Linked DNA regions of Homo sapiens. The protein of the gene in region 1 interacts with the protein of each later gene in a pairwise test. Each region holds a gene or a part of one and is shown on either strand. Other genes may lie near its edges. The genes, in order: ZNF329 and TRIM37.

What was found.
Region 2: the proteins of ZNF329 (region 1) and TRIM37 interact in binary tests that used the Homo sapiens proteins (3 or more experiments, as listed by UniProt).

Annotation. Positions count from the first base shown.
Region 1 is NC_000019.10:58,139,696-58,149,689, reverse strand, and holds part of ZNF329 (zinc finger protein 329), read left to right. Parts: intron 1-6,491; 5' UTR 6,492-6,585; intron 6,586-7,028; 5' UTR 7,029-7,110; coding exon of another isoform or gene 7,111-7,133; intron 7,134-9,994. UniProt on the Homo sapiens protein: May be involved in transcriptional regulation.
Region 2 is NC_000017.11:59,046,030-59,056,023, reverse strand, and holds part of TRIM37 (E3 ubiquitin-protein ligase TRIM37), read left to right. Parts: intron 1-4,695; coding exon 4,696-4,810; intron 4,811-6,630; coding exon 6,631-6,846; intron 6,847-8,204; coding exon 8,205-8,341; intron 8,342-9,994. UniProt on the Homo sapiens protein: E3 ubiquitin-protein ligase required to prevent centriole reduplication. Probably acts by ubiquitinating positive regulators of centriole reduplication.

The DNA.
Region 1 (9,994 bases):
GTTGAAGTACGTTTTGAATACCCAGTTTTTGTCTGTTTTTTCTTTTTTCCCACAGCAAGTGACTTTCCTCCATTCTACTGCTTGTTTACCTCTCTCTTCACCCAACTTTTCATTTTGAAAAGTTCCGCATTTGCATAGAAGTTGCAGGAATAGTTTAACACTTCTAAAACCATCCAGATTCTAAAATTATTAACACTTTTTGCCACATTAGCTTTATCTTTATCTTCTCCCTGCCTGAGACACATGCATAGGTGTTACCAGAAAGGGGGTCCCGAGCTATAACCCAACAGAGGGTTCTTATATCTTGGGAAAGAAAATTCAGGGCGAGTCCATAGAGTAAAGTGAAAGCAAGCTTATTAAGAAAGTAAAGGAATAAAAAAATGGCTACTCCATAGATAGAGCAGCCCCAAGAACTGCTGGTCGCCCATTTTTATGGTTATTTCTTGATTATATGCTAAACAAGGGGTGGATTATTCATGCCTACCATTTTTAGGCCATATAGGGTAACTTCCTGATGTTTCCATGACATTTGTAAACTGTCATGGTGCTAGTGGGAGCAGGACCAGAGGTCACTCTCGTTGCCATCTTGGTTTTGGTGGGTTTTAGCCACCTTTACTGCAAGCTGTTTTATCAACAAGGTCTTTATGACCTGTATCTTGTGCAAATCTCCTGTGTTATCCTATGACCTAGAATGCCTTAACTGTCTGGAAATGCAGCCCAGTAGGTTTCAGCCTTATTTTACCCAGTCCCCATTTAAGATGGAGGTTTGCTTTGGTTCAAACGCCTCTGACATAGGGTTTTCTTTTTATATTTTACACACACTTGTACACACAGCAGGTGTTGCAGAGGCAGGTGTGATACAGACATATATTTACATACACTTAGTTTTTTTGGCTGAGTTACTGGAAGTATGTTATAGATATCATACCTCACTCTGAAATACTTCAGCCAGGATCTCATAAGAAAAGTAACGTTCTTATTTTTTAATTTTGTATTTTTTATAGAGATGAGATCTCACTATGTTGCCCAGACTGTTCTTGAACTCCTGGTCTTAAGCAGTCCTCCTGCCTTGGCCTCCCAAAGTGGTGGGATTACAGGTGTGAGCCACCACACCCAGCCAAAAAGAACATTTGAACATTTAAACAAAACTAGTGTTATTATCACACCCAAGTATACTTTTTTTTTTTCAAAAAACTAATTGTTTTTTATTTGTAATTTTTTTTTCCTGCCAATCTGAACCTGGAAAAGAAGAAACAGGGAAATTTTTTACCTTCCTCTCTTTTTTTTTTTTTTTTTTTAATTGATCATTCTTGGGTGTTTCTCGCAGAGGGGGATTTGGCAGGGTCATAGGACAATAGTGGAGGGGAGGTCAGCAGATAAATAAGTGAACAAAGGTCTCTGGTTTTCCTAGGCAGAGGACCCTGCGGCCTTCCGCGCAGTGTTTGTGTCCCTGGGTACTTGAGATTAGGGAGTGGTGATGACTCTTAAGGAGCATGCTGCCTTCAAGCATCTGTTTAACAAAGCACATCTTGCACCGCCCTTAATCCATTTAACCCTGAGTGGACACAGCACATGTTTCAGAGAGCACAGGGTTGGGGGTAAGGTCACAGATCAACAGGATCCCAAGGCAGAAGAATTTTTCTTAGTACAGAACAAAATGAAAAGTCTCCCATGTCTACTTTCTGCACAGACACGGCAACCATCCGATTTCTCAATCTTTTCCCCACCTTTCCCCCCTTTCTATTCCACAAAACCGCCATTGTCATCATGGCCCGTTCTCATTGAGCTGTTGGGTACACCTCCCAGACGGGGTGGTGGCTGGGCATAGGGGCTCCTCACTTCCCAGTAGGGGCGGCTGGGCAGAGGCGCCCCTCACCTCCCGGACGGGGCGGCTGGCCGGGTGGGGGGGCTGACCCCCCCCACCTCCCTCCCGGACGGGGCGGCTGGCCGGGCAGAGGGTCTCCTCACTTCCCAGTGGGGCAGCCGGGCAGAGGCGCCCCTCATCTCCCAGACAGGGCGGCTGGCCGGGCGGGGGGCTGGCCCCCCACCTCCCTCCTGGACGGGGCGTCTGGCCAGGCGGAGGGCTGACCCCCCCACCTCCCTCCCGGACGGGGCGGCTGGCCGGGCGGGGGGCTGACCCCCCCACCTCCCTCCCGGGCGGGGCGGCTGGCCGGGCAGAGGGGCTCCTCACTTCCCAGTAGGGGCGGCTGGGCAGAGGCGCCCCTCACCTCCCGGACGGGGCGGCTGGCCGGGCGGGGGGCTGGCCCCCCACCTCCCTCCTGGACGGGGTGGCTGCCAGGCGGAGACGCTCCTCACTTCCCAGACGGGGTGGCTGCCGGGCGGAGGGGCTCCTCACTTCTCAGACGGGGCGGCTGCCTGGCGGAGGGGCTCCTCACTTCTCAGACGGGGCGGTTGCCAGGCGGAGGGTCTCCTCACTTCTCAGACGGGGCGGCTGGGCAGAGACGCTCCTCACCTCCCAGACGGGGTCGCGGCCGGGCAGAGGCGCTCCTCACATCCCAGATGGGGCGGCGGGGCAGAGGCGCTCCCCACATCTCAGACGATGGGCGGCCGGGCAGAGACGCTCCTCACTTCCTAGATGGGATGGCGGCCGGGCAGAGACGCTCCTCACTTTCCAGACTGGGCAGCCAGGCAGAGGGGCTCCTCACGTCCCAGATGATGGGCGGCCAGGCAGAGATGCTCCTCACTTCCCAGACAGGGTGGCGGCCGGGCAGAGGCTGCACTCTCGGCACTTTGGGAGGCCAAGGCAGGTGGCTGGGAGGTGGAGGTTGTAGCAAGCCAAGATCACGCCACTGCACTCCAGCCTGGGCACCATTGAGCACTGAGTGAACCAGACTCCGTCTGCAATCCCGGCACCTCGGGAGGCCGAGGCTGGCGGATCACTCGTGGTTAGGAGCTGGAGACCAGCCTGGCCAACACAGCGAAACCCCGTCTCCACCAAAAAAATACGAAAACCAGTCAGGCGTGGCGGCGCGTGCCTGCAATTGCAGGCACTCGGCAGGCTGAGGCGGGAGAATCAGGCAGGGAGGTTGCAGTGAGCCGAGATGGCAGCAGTACCGTCCAGCTTCGGCTCGGCATCAGAGGGAGACCGTGGAAAGAGAGGGAGAGGGAGACCGTGGGGAGAGGGAGAGGGGGAGGGGGAGAGGGAGAGGGACTACCTTCCTCTCTTGACCAGGTACCACCTACTTTTTTTTTTTAAAGATGGAATCTTACTCCGTCACCCAGGGTAGAGTGCAGTGGAGCGATCTCGGCTCACTGCAACCTCTACTTCCCAGGCTCAAGTGGTTTTCCTGCCTCAGCCTCCCAAGTAGCTGGAATTACAGGTGTGTGCCACTATGCCCAGCTAATATTTGTATTTTTAGTAGAGACGGGGTTCCGCCATGTTGGCCAGGCTGGTCTTGAACTCCTGACTTCAAGTGATCTGCCCACCTTGGCCTCCTACAGTGCTGGGATTACAGGTGTGAGCCACTGCGCCTGGCCCCAGATACTTTATTATTGATACAGAATTCCTGTCTGATATAGTTTGTATGCAGCTGATACAGTTTGTATGGTTTTTGGGTATTTGTTTTGATCCAGGATCCAATCCAGGATCCTGTGTTACATTGACTTGTCATGTTATTTTAGTCTTCCTCAACCTTGAATGGCACTCTCCTTTCTTTTTTTTTTTTTTTCATGAAATTGATATATTTTTAAAAGACCCAGCTGGTGGTTGTGTAGATTGTCACTTGATGTTCAGTTGACATTCCCAATATTAAATTCAGACTCTCGTCTTTGGCAGGGCATTGTCTAAGTGACATCATGTTCTTCTTGGTGTGTCGTGTCAGGAAGCATGTGAGGCTGGTGGTGATCAGGTTTTTGTCATGTGGTTAAAGTGCTCTCTGCCAGGATCCTCCGCTTTTTCCCCTCTGTAATTGATAAGCCATTCTAGAGATGGTACTTTGAATGTTCTTTTAATCTTATGTTCATGGTGTATTACTCATTTTGATATAGTAAGATGTTTCAAATCTTTTTCTTTATGTTTTGTGCCTTTTGTGAGTTGAGAAATTCTTTGGCTTGGCGCAGTGGCTCGCGCCTATAATCCCAGCACCTTGGGAAGCTGAGGCGGGTAGATCACTTGAGGTCAGGAGTTCAACACCAGCCTGGCCGACATGGTGAAACCCCATCTCTACTAAAAATATAAAAATTAGCTGGGTATGGTGGTGGGCACATGTAATCCAAGCTACTCAGGCAGCTGAGGCAGGAGAATCACTTAAACCCAGGAGGCGGAGGTTGCAGTGAGCTGAGATCATGCCACTACACTCCAGCCTGGGTGACAGAGTGAGGCACTGTCTCCAAAAAAAAAAAAAAAAAAAAAAAAGGAAGAAAAAAGAAATTTTTTTTGGCTTGATGTAGTGGTGGCTCACGCCTTAATCCCAGCACTTTGGGAATCTGAGGCTGGAGGATCACTTGAGCTCAGGAGTTTGAAACCAGCCTGGGCAACACAGTGAGACCCAATCTCTACAAAACATTTAAAAAAAAAAAATGGCCAGGCGCGGTGGCTCACGCCTGTAATTCCAGCACTTTGGGAGGCCGAGGCGGGCGGGTCACGAGGTCAGGAGATCGAGACCATCTTGGCTAACATGGTGAAACCCCGTCTGTACTAAAAATACAAAAAATTAGCCAGGCATGGTGGCAGGCACCTGAAGTCCCAGCTACTCGGGAGGCTGAGGCAGGAGAATGGCGTGAACCCGGGAGGCAGAGCTTGCAGTGAGCAGAGATCGCACCACTGCACTCCAGCCTGGGTGACAGATCAAAACTCTGTATCAAAAAAAAAAAAAAAAAGAAAAAAAATTATCCAGGTGTGATGGCATACTCCTATGGTCATGGCTCCTGAGCCCAGGCATTCAAGATTACAGTGAGCCATGATCATACTACTGCATTCAAGCCTGAGCATCAAAGCAAGACTCTGTCTCTTTAAAAAAAAAAAAAAAAAAAAAAATTCTTGGCTGGGCGCCATGGCTCATGCCTGTAATCCTAGCATTTTGGGAGGTCGAGGCAGGCAGATCACCTGAGGTCAGGAGTTCAAGATCAGCCTGGCCGACTTGGTGAAACCCCATCTCTATTAAAAATATAAACAATTAGCCGAGTGTGGTGACGCGTGCCTGTAATCCCAACTACTCGGGAGGCTGAGGCACGAGAGTCACTTGAACCCAGGAAGCGGAGGTTGCAGTGAGCCGAGATCGCGCCACTGCACTCCAGCCCAGCTACAGAGCGAGACTCCGTCTCAAAAAAAAAATATATATATATATATAGATAGATAGATAGATAGATAGATAGATATAGATGTAAAATTAGCTGCGTGTGGTGGCAGGTACCTGTAGTCCTGGCTACTCAGGAGGCTGAGGCAAGAGAATTGCTTGAACCCAGGAGGCGGAGGTTGCAGTGAGTTGAGATCACGCCACTGCACTCCAGCCTGGGCAACAGAGCAAGACTCCATCTGAAAAATAAAAAAATAAAAAATAACAACAACAAAAAAACCCACAATTTTTTTCTACTCTGATAACTCAAAGATATTCTTGTAGTTCTATATTTATTTATTTATTTATTTTTTGAGACTGAGTCTCGCTGTTGTTGCCCGGGCTGGAGTGAAATGGTGCAATCTCGGCTCACTGCAACCTCTGCCTCCCGGGTTCCAGCAATTCTTCTCCCTCAGCCTCCCGAGTAGCTGAGATTACGGGCGCCTGCCACCACGCCTGGCTAATTTTTGTATTTCTAGTAGAGACAGGGTTTCACTATGTTGGCCAGGCTGGTCTCGAACTCCTGACCTCGGGTGATCCACTTGCCTCGGCCTCCCAAAGTCCTGGGATTATAAGTGTGAGCCACTGCGCCCAGCCTAGTTCTATTATTTCTAATCATTCAAAAAAATTTTTTCTCACATACTATTTAGGTCTTATAAGCCTGTGTGTGAGCGTGAGTGAATTTGGAATTGTAATTATTTTTCCATCTGAAAAGACAGCACGAGATATACTTACTTTTGCTAATGTGTGAGGCCACCTTTATCACCTTTTAAATTATTAAATGCCTCCAAGTCTGTTTGGGGCTCTGTCCTTCCTGTACCTTCACTGGGTTGCTTGCTTACTGGAACTTTAAGGAGGAGCCTTGACTTTGGCAAAACAACTACTCCTAGCTCTTTTTCCTCTCTTCTTTTTGTTTTTTAAGGAGTTGTCATGGATATTTCAGGAAGCTGTCTTCTTCAGTGTGAATTTTGTCACGCATCAGTAAAATTATTCCAGAGATTTGCTTGGAAGGCATTGCTTTTACAGGTCTAGTGAGAGTTGTCCTGGTTTCAGTACCCAGCCCTTTCATCTGTGTACCTGGTCTAGCTCCTCTCTTACTCAAATGCCCTCTCAGGTCTTGAGTAAACTTTTTCAAGTTTTCACCACAAAGATACTATATAATTTTTGTTAATTTTTGTTTTCTTTTTTTTGAGATAGGGTCTTGCTGTCTCACCCAGGCTGGAGTGCAGTGGCACGATCACAGCTCACTGCAGCCTTGAGCTCCTGGGCTACCAAGTAGCTGGGACTTCAGGTATGCACCATCACGCCTGGCTAAAGGCATTTCACTACATTGTCTAAGCTGGCCTTGAACTCCTAGGCTCAAGTGATCCTCCTGCCTCAACCTCCCAAAGTGCTGGTATTACAGGTGTTATCCAGTGCACCCGGCTGTGGCTGGGCTTTCACTGTGATTAGGTAATGGGGTTGGGGTTGGGGCTTGCATAGTTTGAACTTCCTGCTGGCACCAAGGAGGAAACTCCCAGACTTTCTTGTTGGCTTGCCCAGATGAGAGGGAGAAGGAGAAAGGGGTTGGGGCTTGAAAGCTGTCAGCAACCATCCAAAATGGAGTCAGACTCTTTATCACACTTGTAATCACATGGCTGACTTTGTCAGGATGGGATTAAAGTTGGTAAATGATTTATTTTTGTTAATGAGTTGTGAACAAGTAAAGTAAACATTATTATGGGTGTCCCACAGAGATGGCTGGAGCCGTGTGGATGGGCATAAATGGCTAATGTCCAGCAACCATCGATGTCAAGTATCCACACACCTGGCCTGAATGGATCCCTCTGCCTTTCAGAGGTGAGTACCAGGGAATGGAAGTCTACATGAGCTCAGCACATCCCTGCAAGGACTGTTATTTCCTTTATAAAGTCCTAAAATACCAGAAATGTGGCAGATGGGGTCTAGACTAGTGGTTCTGACCCTTACAGACTCGACACATACTTACTCTTTTAAACAGCTTTATTGAGATATAATTCACATAGCATACAATTTACCCTTTTAAGTGTACAATTCATTGTTTTTTATTATATTAACTAGCTTGTATATCCATTGCCACAGTCAATCTTCGAATGTTTTCATCACCCCTGAAAAAGAAAACCCATACCATTAGCAGTCACTCCCCCATCTTTCCCAGCCCTAGGTAATCTCTAATCTACTTTCTGTCTTATAGATTTGCCTGTTATGGACATTTCATATAAATAGCCTGCAGTATGTGGTCTTTTGTATGTGGCTTGTTAGACTTAGGAAAATGTTTCATGTTATAGCATGGGTCTTTTTTTATTTTATTTTATTTTTGAGATGTAGTCTTGCTCTGTCACCCGAGCTGGAGTACAGTGGCACGATCAGGGCTCACTGCAAACTGCTTCCCAGGTTCAAGCAATTCTCCTGCCTCAGCCTCCCTAGTAGCTGGGATTACAGGCGAGGGCCACCATACCCGGCTAATTTGTTTTTTTTTTTTTTGAGATGGAGGTTCGCTCTTGTTGCCCAGGCTGGAGTGCAATGGCATGATCTCGGCTCACTGCAACCTCCGCCTCTTGGGTTCAAGCGATTCTCCTGCCTCAGTCTTCCGAGTAGCTGGGACTACAGGTGCATGCCACCATGCCTGGCTAATTTTTTGTATTTTTAGTAGAGATGGGGTTTCACCGTGTTACCCAGGCTGGTCTTGAATTCCTGAGCTCAAATGATCCACCTGCCTCAGCCACCCAAAGTGCTGGGATTACAGGCATGAACCACTGCACCTGGCCAAGAGCATTAGGCCAGGCCGGGCACAGTGGCTTATGCCTGTAATCGCAGCACTTTGGGAGGCCAAGGCAGGCTGATCACCTTAGGTCAGGAGTTCAAGACTAGCCTCACCAACATGGAGAAACCCCGTCTCTACTGAAAATACAAAAATTAGGCATGGTGGCACATGCCTGTAATCCCAGGTACTCGGGAGACTGAGTCAGGAGAATCACTTGAACCCGGGAGGAGGAGGTTGCAGTGAGCTGAGATCGCTCCACTGCACTTCAGTCTGGGCAACACAGCGAGACTCTGTCTCAGAAAAAAAAAAAGAGTGTTAAGCCAGGCGTGGTGGCTCACAACTGTAATCCCAGCACTTTGGAAGGCTGAGGTGGGAGGATTGCTTGAGCCCAGGAGTTCAAGACCAGCCTGGCCCATATAGTGAGACCTCATCTCTACCAAAAAAAAAAGAAAAATTTAGGCTGGGTGTGGTGGCTCACGTCTGTAATCCCAGCACTTTGCGAGGCTGAGACATGCAGATCCCTTGAGGTTAGGAGTTTAGGACCAGCCTGGCCAACATGGTGAAACCCTGTCTACTAAAAATAGAAAAATTAGCCAGGCATGGGGGCATGTGCCACTTAAGAGGCCAAGGCAAGAGAATCGCTTGAGCACAGGAGGTGGAGGTTGCAGTGAGCTGAGATCATGCCACTGTACTCCAGCCTGAGACAGAGTGAGATTCTAACTCAAAAAAAAAAAAAAAATTATGTGTGATGGTGTGCAACTGTGGTCCCAGCTACTCAGGAAGCTGAGGTGGGAGGATCACTTGAGCCCAGGAGATTGAGGCTGTGTTGAGCCTTGATTGCACCTTGCAGTCTAGGCTGGACAAGAGAGTGAGACCCTGTCTCTTAAGAAAGAAAAAAAGGGCTGGGCGCGGTGGTCACGCCTGTAATCCCAGCGCTTTGGGAGGCCGGGGTGGGCGGATCACGAGGTCAGGAGATCGAGACCATCCTGGCCAACATGGTGAAACCCCATCTCTACTAAAAAATGTACAAAAAATCAGCTGGGTGTGGTGGCGGGCACCTGTAGTCCCAGCTACTCGGGAGGCTGAGGCAGGAGAATGGCGTGAACCCGGGAGACGGAGCTTGCAGTGAGCCGAGATCACGCCACTGCACACCAGCCTTAGCAAAAGAGCAAGACTCTGTCTCAAAAAAAAAAAAAAAAGAAAGAGTTTTATAGTTGTAGCTTTTATGTTTAGGCTGATCCATTTTGAGTAAATTTTTATGTAATGTGCACGGTTTATAATCTGTTTTGCAGTGTACTCTAAATTTACTGGTAATATTAAATATCCATATAATTCTTTAAATTCTAAAGCCCTAAGTCTATGTAAAGAATCAATACAATTCTGGGGGCACTAATTCATTTCCCCCAGAACCGATCCAGTCTCATGAGAGCAAGAACTCACTACTGTGAGAACAGCACCAAGCCATTCATGCGGGTTCCACCTCCATGACCCAAACCCCTCCTGGTAGGCTGCATGCCCCAGCACCACCACAGTAGGGATTAAATTTCAGCATGAGATTTGGTGTGGACAAACCATATCCAAACCGTAGCAGTGGAATAGCTGGATCATATGACAGCTCCATATTTTCCTTTTTGAGAATCATCAGACTGGTTTCCAAATTAGCTACACTGTTTTATATTTGCACCGGCAGTGAAAAGTTTCCAGTTTTTCCATATCCTTGCCAATACTTGTTATTGTTTTTGTTTGTTTTTAAATATTGAACATACTAGTGAGTGTAAAGTGGCATCTCACTGTGGTTTTGATCAGCATTTCCCGAATACCTAATGATATTGATCATCATTTCATGTGCTCATTGGCCATTTGTATGACTTCTTTGGGGAAATATCTATTCAGAACTCCTATGGGGTGAATGTAGTGT
Region 2 (9,994 bases), on another chromosome or scaffold:
CTATCAGTTCTTTGTCAATAACAGCAAATTAAAAGTAGAAGAGTCAAGATGAAAGTTGACGAAAACCAGCAATTTTCTACTTTTTTCTTAAACTTTTATTTTAGGTTCAGGGGTACATGTGTAGGTTTGTTATACAGGTAAACTCACATCATGGTGATTTGGTGTACGGATTATTTCATCACCCAGATACTAAGCCTAGTACCCAATAGTTATTTTTTCTTATCCTCTCCCTCCTCCCACCCTCCACCCTCAAGTAGGCCCCAGTGTCTGTTGTTGTTACCCCTCGTTATATCCTTGAGTTCTCATCATTTAGCTTTTTTTTTTTTTTTTTTTTTTTTGAGATGGAGTCTCCCTCTGTCGCCCAGAGGCGACATATCGGCTCACTGCAAGCTCTGCCTCCCGGGTTCACACCATTCTCCTGCCTCAGCCTCCCAAGTAGCTGGGACTACAGGTGCCTGCCACTGCATCTGGCTAATTTTGTTTTTGTATTTTTAGTAGAGATGGGGTTCCACCGTGTTAGCCAGGATGGTCTCGATCTCCTGACCTCTTGAGCCTCCTGCCTCAGCCTCCAAAGTGCTGGGATTACAGGCCTGAGCCACTGCGCCCGGCCCATTTAGCTCTTAAATAATAAGTGAGAACATGTGGTATTTGCGAAAACCATCAATTTTTTTTTTTTTTTTTTTTTTTTTTTGAGACAGAGTTTCTAGTTGCCCAGGCTGGAGCGCAATGGCGCGATCTTGGCTCCCTGCAACCTTTGCCTCCCAGGTTCAAGCGATTCTCCTGCCTCAGCCTCCCGAGTAGATGGGATTGCAGGCACGCGCCACCATGCCTGGCTAATTTTGTACTTTTAGTAGAGATGGGGTTTCTCCGTGTTGATCAGGCTGGTTTCTAACTCCCGACCTCAGGTGATCCACCCACTTCGGCCTCCCATAGTGCTGGGATTATAGGCATGAGCCACCACGTCTGGCCAAAACCATCAATTTTTATTGTTGATTGTTGGTGTAGTATTTACAAGAAAGGATAGAACGTAAATACTGACTCAAACAACAGCCCTATTTAGCCAGGTGTGGTGGCTCACGCCTGTAATCCCAGCACTTTGGGAGGCTGAGGCAGGCAGATCACTTGGGCTCAGGAGTTTGAGAGCAGCCTGGCCAATATGGTGAAATCCTATCTCTACTAAAAATACAAAAATTAGCCGGGCTGTGGTGGCACGCGCCTGTAATCCCAGCTACTCAGGAGGCCAAGGCAGGAGAATCGCTTGAATCCGGCAGGTGGAGGTTGCAGTGAACCGAGATTATGCCACTGCACCCCAGCCTGGGCGACATAGCAAGACCCTATCTCAAAAATAATAATAAAGTAAATAAAAACAACAGCCCTGTTTAACGTGGGGTAGTCTTTACAGGTCAGAAGTTTTTGGGCATTGGCTGGGTGCCGTGGCTCACGCCTGTAATCCCAGCACTTTGGGAGGCTGAGGTGGGTGGATCACCTGAGGTCAGGAGTTCAAGATCAGCCTGGGCAACATGGTGAAACCCTGTCTCTACTAAAAATACAAAAATTAGCTGGGCATGGTGGCAGGCACTTGTAATCCCAGCTACTTGGGAAGCTGAGGCAGTTGAATCGCTTGAGTCCGGGAGGCAGATGTTGCAGTGAGCCGAGATTTCACCAGTGCACTCCAGCCTGGGCGACAAGAGTGAAACTCCATCTTAAAAAAACAAAAAACAAACAAAAAAAGGTTTTTGGGTATCATTACATGATGTTATAATTTGATGATCAAAATAAGAACTTGAATATTTAAAAAAGATTAAAATATGTTCTGAACTGAGAAGTTTCAGAGTATTTAACAGTTTAAAAAGTTCTCATCACAACAATTTTAAACATTTTTTTCTTGAGAGTGATTTAATGTACTCCTGAATTTCCCTTATTCGGAGCTCTTTGTTCTTGAGCATACTGGACAGATGAGTTGCTATCATATCAGCATTTACTCTTATGTGTTTTCCGTAGCTTTTCTGGAAGTATAAAGAAGTTTAACAAGGGATATGATTTTCAGTGTAGGGAAAAAGATATGTTTTTGTTATTGTTTTGTTTTGTTTAGAGTCAGTGTCTTGCTATATTGCCCAGTCTAGTCTAGAATTCTCGGGCTCAAGTGATCCTCCTGTCTCAACTTCCCAAGTAGGTAGGATTACAGGTGCATGCCACGGTGCCTGGAATCATGTTTTTTGAGGGGAGGGATTATTTTAGTTTTCTTCGTATAGCTTTTCAGACTTTTGGGGTTTAACTATTCACCAAGAGAAATAATTTATTGCTATTTCATGCTTCAGCCATAGAGAGAATTACAAAATTATTCAAACATCAATTTTACCAACCTATAAAAGACCCATTTTCTTATAGCCTTGATTTCATCCTTATTAGCGTTACTTATTAGTACAGAAACAAATTCCTGTTATGACATCATTTTTTTTAAGCAACATTGAGTCTATACCATATGCCTGACACTGAGTTGCTAATAAGAAAAATATAGACATGGTTTTTGTCCACAGGGAACTCAAGATGAAATTGGCAGATAAAAACAGAATTTACTACTCTCTTATTATAAAATAATGCTATAGTAGCACCGTAAGTAAATTGCTATGAAGTTTGTGGATAGGGGGCTTCACATTATCCTATTAATGAGACATTGCTCAAACTTTAAACCTTTTATTTCAAGATTCTGGTGGAATTTTGTATGTATTTATTAGAAAGTTATTTAAGGCTTTTCTATAACTATGAATGTATGTTTCATTCTTTCATTAAAACAGAAAGTTAAGAAATTTTACCTGCTGCTTGGTTTTGTTTTAATGGCAAAATATTAGAACTAATGTGCAGAGTTAACCAGTGGTTTAAATCATTCAAAGAAAATAATAGTGTTTAGACGGTCTTACTTTAATGTCTTACCAGTGGGTACTTCCTAGACTGTGAATCGTCTCTGCTCAGTTGAGTGAATCATCTCTACTCAGTTCCGTTCAGAACGTAATTTAATCTCTTGATTTGATTTGATTTGATTTGATTTGATTTGATTTGATTTGATTTTTTGAGACAGAGTTTCGCTCTGTTGCCCAGGCTGGAGTGCAGTGGTGCGATCTCGGCTCACTGCCACCTTTGCCTCCCAGATTCAAGCGATTCTCCTGCCTCAGCCTCCTGAGTAGCTGGGATTACAGGCGCCCGCCACCATACCCGGCTAATTTTTGTACTTTTAGTAGAGACGGGGTTTCACCATGTTGGCCACGCTGGTCTCGAACTCCTGACCTTAGGTGATCTGCCCACCTCGGCCTCCCAAAGTGCTAAGATTACAGGTGTGAGCCACTGTGCCCGGCCAATCTCTCTCTTTTTTTAATACTCAAGTTCTCATTTTGATCATCCAGTTATAACATATAATGATGCCCAAAAACTTCTGACCTATAAAGACTATCCCAACATTAAATAGGACTGTTGTTTTATAGTCAGTGTTTATGTTCTGTCCTTTCTTGCATTAGTATTCTTCACTAAAACTAGATATCTACTGCCAGATAACTGTTAAATGGTCAGTAGGTTCTTACAATAAGGTGTAAAATCCTAGAAAAAAATGAACAGCTAACATTGTGTAGCCGGGTAAAAGGGCTGGAAGGAATGAGAGAGATGTAGATGTCCAAATTAGTCTTGCCTTGTGGTTTTTCCTTTCTTCAAAAACACCTTCACACATGCACTGCAATTTTTTCACCTTAAATATAGTCACGTTAGGCTATGTAACAAAGGTAGAGGTTTGTTTGCTTTAGTAATAGTTTTTTTTTTTTTTTTAATTAAAACAACTCTGGATAGATTAAGATTCTGTCATTTATATATTAATACGATTTTATGTAGGTGCAGTACTTTTTTTCCTAACCTAAGCTGAAATAATGCCATATTGTAATAAGGGCAGTTTTGATTGCTATCTTGAAGGGTTCAGGATATAGTTTATTTAGAGCATGTAACTCCTTGGGGGATAGTAAAGCAATCCTGGGTGGTTGAGCCAGGAAGTGATTTTTTTTCTGAGGGGCAGGAAATACGGGAACGTGAGATGGAATAGAGAAATATAAAGAGCAGCACTTAAAACTTTGTATTTTGCTACAAAAAATTAGCCGGGCGTAGTGGCGGGCGCCTGTAGTCCCAGCTACTTGGGAGGCTGAGGCAGGAGAATGGCGTGAACCCGGGAGGTGGAGCTTGCAGTGAGCCGAGATCCCGCCACTGCACTCCAGCCTGGGCGACAGAGCGAGACTCCGTCTCAAAAAAAAAAAAAACTTTGTATTTTGCTGGGGCCTCATTTAGGGAAGAAAGGGATAAGAGTTATCTTCCTCCTTATAGGAGGAAACTGCATAGTATATGGCTCTCTTCTTCCCAACTCATGATCATCATTGTATTTTAGTTACATTATTATAATAAATATGCCTGAGTAGGTTAGTTTGGGAAGCTTAACTACAATGTACAATGTTATTTCTTTAGAAAGGTAGTTTGAGGACAACTGGCTTTTCAGAACCTTGTGTCATAATCTGTGGACTACATCTATAAACAACAAATACTAGCAGCTCTAAGTTTATGTGAATTTTGGCCTTATAATCAAGTTAACCCAAATTGCAGAATTCAGTGCTAGACTGATAATGTTTTACTATTTGAATTTTTTTTTTAATGTGGCACAATTCTTTTAAGGTTTCAGGTACGTTCACCAACTTTCTTTCAAAAATCCCGGGACCAGCATTGGTACATTACTCAGTTGGAAGCTGCACAGACTAGTTATATCCAACAAATAAACAACCTTAAAGAGGTAAGAAAATATCTATTTCTGTTTTGGTGTTTCCTATTGTCCTTTTGGCTTGTTATATTTGTAATTAGATTTTATATATTTTATTGCTATTTGTAATTTTGTAATTTGTAATTAGAAAAAAAATCTAGTTATCTTGTTCCCCATCCTTACCAGTTCTGCAGTGTCCAGTTTAGTAGACACTAGCCACATACGGCCATGTAAATTTTTATTTTACTTTATTTATTTATTTTTTTTGAGAAGGAGTCTCGCTCTGTTGCCCAGGCTGGAGTGCAGTGGTGCAATCTCGGCTCACTGCAAGCTCCGCCTCCTGGGTTCACGCCATTCTCCTGCCTCAGCCTCCTGAGTAGCTGGGACTACAGGCGCCTGCCACCACACCGGGCTAATTTTTTTGTATTTTTAGTAGAGACAGGGTTTCACAGTGTTAGCCAGGATGGTCTCGATGTCCTGACCTCGTGATCTGCCCACCTCGGCCTCCCAAAGTGCTGGGATTACAGGCATGAGCCACCACGCCCTGCCACTTTATTTTTATTTTTTTTTATTTTGGAGACAGGTCGGACTCACTCTTGTTGCCAGGCACAATTTCCACTAACTGCAGCTTCAACTTCCCAAGCTCGGGTGATCTTCCCACCTTAGCCTCCCAGGTAGCTGGGACTACGAGCATGTGTCATGGCTAGTTTTTGTTTTTGTGGAGATGGGTTTCTCCATGTTGCCCAAGCTGGTCTTGAACTCCTGGGCTCAAGCAGTCTGCCTGCCTTGGCCTCCCAAAGTGCTGGGATTACAGGTGTGAGCCACTGTGCCTGGTCTGTAAATTTAGCTTAATTAAAATTAAAAATTTAGTTCCTTAGTTGCAGTAGCCACATTTCAAGTGCTTGCATTGGTTACTGCAAATCTAGAGCATTTCCATCATTGCATAAAGTTGTTTTGAACAGTGTGGCTGTAGTTTGAGGTAAGCTGTTTGTGTTTCTGTCAGTGACTTAGTTTCTCTTCCACAAGTTATCTTGGATTTAGAGGATTCTAGGCTATAGCACAATTAAAAGTTGTCCCATCTTGAACTCTTACTATTGTTGAATGAGCACTGGGGAAGATTAATTGATGAATTTTTATTTTACAGTGGTAAACTAAGGAATGTTTCATTTCCCTTAGGAAGTTAGGGTGTGGCAGGAGGTTTGGAGTGCTGAGAGTCGTTAATAGGTCAGGGAGGAAAATGTGAATAAATACATGCTTTCAGAGATTTTCATGTTAAATGTGCTATTTAAAACTGCCTGTATTCACTATACTGTTTGCTAATTGTATGTTTAGCTTAGGCTGGATATGAAAGAAGGAGGATGAGCATAAATGGGGCAGTTTATCTTTGTCATCAATTTTTTTTTATAAATAAAAGGCAGTAGGGATTCAGAGAAATGGTTTAAGAAATGGTGCCAAGTGAGGTGGCTCATTCCTGTAATCCCAGCATGTTGGGAGGCCGAGGCCAGAGGAACATTTGAGCCCAGGGGTTCAAAACCAGCTTGAGCAACATAGCAAGATACCGTCTCTAAAAATAAATAAAAATGAAATTAGCCAAGCATGGTGGCACACACCTCCAGTCCCAGCCACTTGAGAGGCTGAGGCAGTAGGATCGTTTGAGCCCAGTAGTTCAAGGCTTGCAGTGAGCTATGATGGCACCACTGCACTTCAGCCTGGGCAACAGAGTGAGACCATTCTCAAAAAATAAATAAAGCAATGGTTTTAGAAACATCTGGATGCATTTTTTTTTCACTTGAGACATCTTTTACTGTGCCAGTGAGCTGTGGCTAATATTTGTGCTTTTCTTGTTTTAAAAGAGACTTACTATTGAGCTGTCTCGAACTCAGAAGTCAAGAGATTTGTCACCACCAGATAACCATCTTAGCCCCCAAAATGATGATGCTCTGGAGACACGAGCTAAGAAGTCTGCATGCTCTGACATGCTTCTCGAAGGTGGTCCTACTACAGCTTCTGTAAGAGAGGCCAAAGAGGATGAAGAAGATGAGGAGAAGATTCAGAATGAAGATTATCATGTAATAATGAGGCCAGTTTTAGATTTTTGTGTTTGATTAAAAAAAAACAGTAGCATCATGGCTTTTAACATATTATGTGCTAAAACAGTAGGCTAAAAATATTGTCCATTGATTTCCATTAGTAATGTATGTATGCCCTTATGTAAATGTTAATAAGTCAGAAGTTGTTGAATCAAAGCATTTCAAGGTTGTGAAAAAAACAATACATTGTATAAAACAAACCGTGATACACATTTTAAAACCTAAACTACCATACATTGTGGATTTTAAAAATGTGTTCTGGCCGGGTGCGGTGGCTCACACCTGTAATCCCAGCACTTTGGGAGGCCAAGGTGGGTGGATCACATGAGGTCAGGAGTTCGAGACTATCCTGGCCAACATGGCCAAACCCTGTCTCTACGAAAAATACAAAAATTAGCTGGGTGTGGTGGTGCTTGCCTGTAATCCCAGCTACTTGGGAGGCTGAGGTAGGAGAATCACTTGAACCTAGGAGGCGGAGGTTGCAGTGAGCCAAGATTGTGCCACTGCACTCCAGCCTGGGAGACAGAGCAAGACTCTGTCTCAAAGAAAAAGAAAAAAAAAAGGTGTTCTATTTTCATTCACTGAAACTAGTACATGCCTTATCATTACTTACGTAGGTAGACTGATTTAGGATTCGGTAGCTAGCCAGGTTCTATCCCAGCTAAACAACAGTCAGAATCCAGAATAAGAGTTCAAGAAGTAGTTGATATTTTTACATAAGAAGGGATGCATAGACAGTTGGTTTTTTTGTAGTAATTTTTAAGATGAGAGACTTCAGTTTTAAGTTAAAATGAAGGACCCAGTGGGTCGAGAGAATGCACAGATTAAGTGCTTTGATAAACTAGAGATAATAGGGTTTGGAATGGAGCAGTCAGGTGAAGCAGTTAACCTTTGATAAACTGAGTTAAAGGAAGGGTGGAGTTTGCAGGTAAGGCAGCTGAAAAGTTGGGGAAGTTTTTGCTTAATAGTGGGTATTTTTTTTCTGTGCAGATAGGTGACAGTGTTAATTAATGACCTTGATAATGGTAAAATTAGGTAGAATTGAGGAGTGATGGTTTGAAACGTTACTCTGTGAGGAAGCTGATGTGGAATATGTGAAGGATTCCAGTCACACTGAGGGCCCAGCTGAAGGCGGCACGCATAAGTTAGTAAAATGATATCAGTCAGTGTGGTTGTGTGATTTTTCTCTACAGGGCTCAGCAGCTGAGGCACAGGAGCAGAAAATAGATTTTTGAAAACTGTATTATTCTTTGGTGCTTGGTTTATGGGCTGGATGGGGTGATCAACTGAGTAGAAACATTTGGAATAGACGTCTTGTTTTCTTGGCATTGATCTAGCACGAGCTTTCAGATGGAGATCTGGATCTGGATCTTGTTTATGAGGATGAAGTAAATCAGCTCGATGGCAGCAGTTCCTCTGCTAGTTCCACAGCAACAAGTAATACAGAAGAAAATGATATTGATGAAGAAACTATGTGAGTTTCCCACTTTACTACTGTAAAGCATTTAAGTGGTAATTATTAGAAGCATATTAACTAACTCACACTTAAATGTAGGGATATTCAGCACTTTTTTGAAAGATTGAATCAATAGTCAGTTTTCTCTCTCTAATCTCTGGGCTCTTAGCCAATAATTTTTGTTTGTGTTTTAACTTTTAAATTTGAATTTTGAAATTATTTTATACTTAAGAAAAGTTCAGAATTTCATGTTTCCTTCACACAGATTCATTCCCTATGAATATTTTGCTTTATATTTCTCTGTATATAATTTTTTCTGAAACACTTGAGATCGAATATACTTCTCATTGTGTACTTTTCTAAAAACAAGGATATTCTTACATAACTATAGAATAGTTATCAAAATCTGGAAATTAACATTGATGTAATACTGTAACCTTCTAAAAATTTGCCAGTAATGTCCTTTGTCAGGATCATGTTGCATTTAATTGTTAAATCGATTTAGTTATCTTCAATCTGGGTTACTTTTTTTTTTTTCCTTTTTTTTTGAGACGGAGTCTCGCTCTGTCGCCCAGGCTGGAGTGCAGTGGCATGATCTCAGCTCACTGCAAGCTCCACCTTCCGGATTACGCCATTCTCCTGCCTCAGCCTCCCGAGCAGCTAGAACTACAGGCGCCCGCCACCTCGCCCAGCTAATTTTTTGTATTTTTAGTAGAGACGGGGTTTCACCGTGTTAGCCAGGTTGGTCTTGATCTCCTGACCTCATGATCCGTCCACCTCGGCCTCCCAAAGTGTTGGGATTACAGGCGTGAGCCACCGCACCTGGCCAATCTGGGTTACTTTTTTAAAAATTTGTTTTTCGGCTGGGCACGGTGGCTCACGCCTGTAATCCCAGCACTCTGGGAGGCTGAGGCGGGTGGATCACGAGGTCAGGAGATCCAGACCATCCTGGCTAACACGGTGAAACCCCGTCTCTACTAAAAATACAAAAAAGAAATTAGCCAGGTGTGGTGGCAGGCGCCTGTAGTCCCAGCTACTTGGTAGGCTGAGGCAGGAGAATGGGGTGAACCCGGGAGGCGGAGCTTGCAGTGAGCTAAGATCACGCCACGGCACTCCAGCCTGGGCGACAGTTGAGACTCTGTCTCAAAAAAAAAAAAAAACTGTTTTTCATGACTAATACTTTCTGAGAAATACAGAATAGTTTATTTTGTAGAAAGTCCCTCAGTTTGGATTAGTCTGAAGTTTCCTCATGATTAGATAGAGGTTACACACTTTTGGCAGGGATACTACGGAAATGATAATGTATCCTTTTCACTGCGTCATACAGAGTGGAGCATGATGTCAGTATGTCCCATTACTTGTGGTTAATTTTGATCACTTAGTTGAGGTAGCATCCGCCAGGTTTCTTCACTCCAAAATTTGTACTTTTTCCTTTATAATTAATAAGTATCTTATGTATGGGACTGTAAATATCCTATTTTTCATCCTACTTTTTCCTATGAATTTTGACACCCTTTGATGAGTGTTGCCTGAAAAAGGTTACTGTGTTGATTGCCAAGTGGTGTTTTTCTAATTCCATTATTTCTTACTCATTCATTAGTTGCAATTTAAGGAAGAGCTTTTCCTTCTGCCCTGTTAATTGATGAACTAATGAATTTCATTAATGTGGAT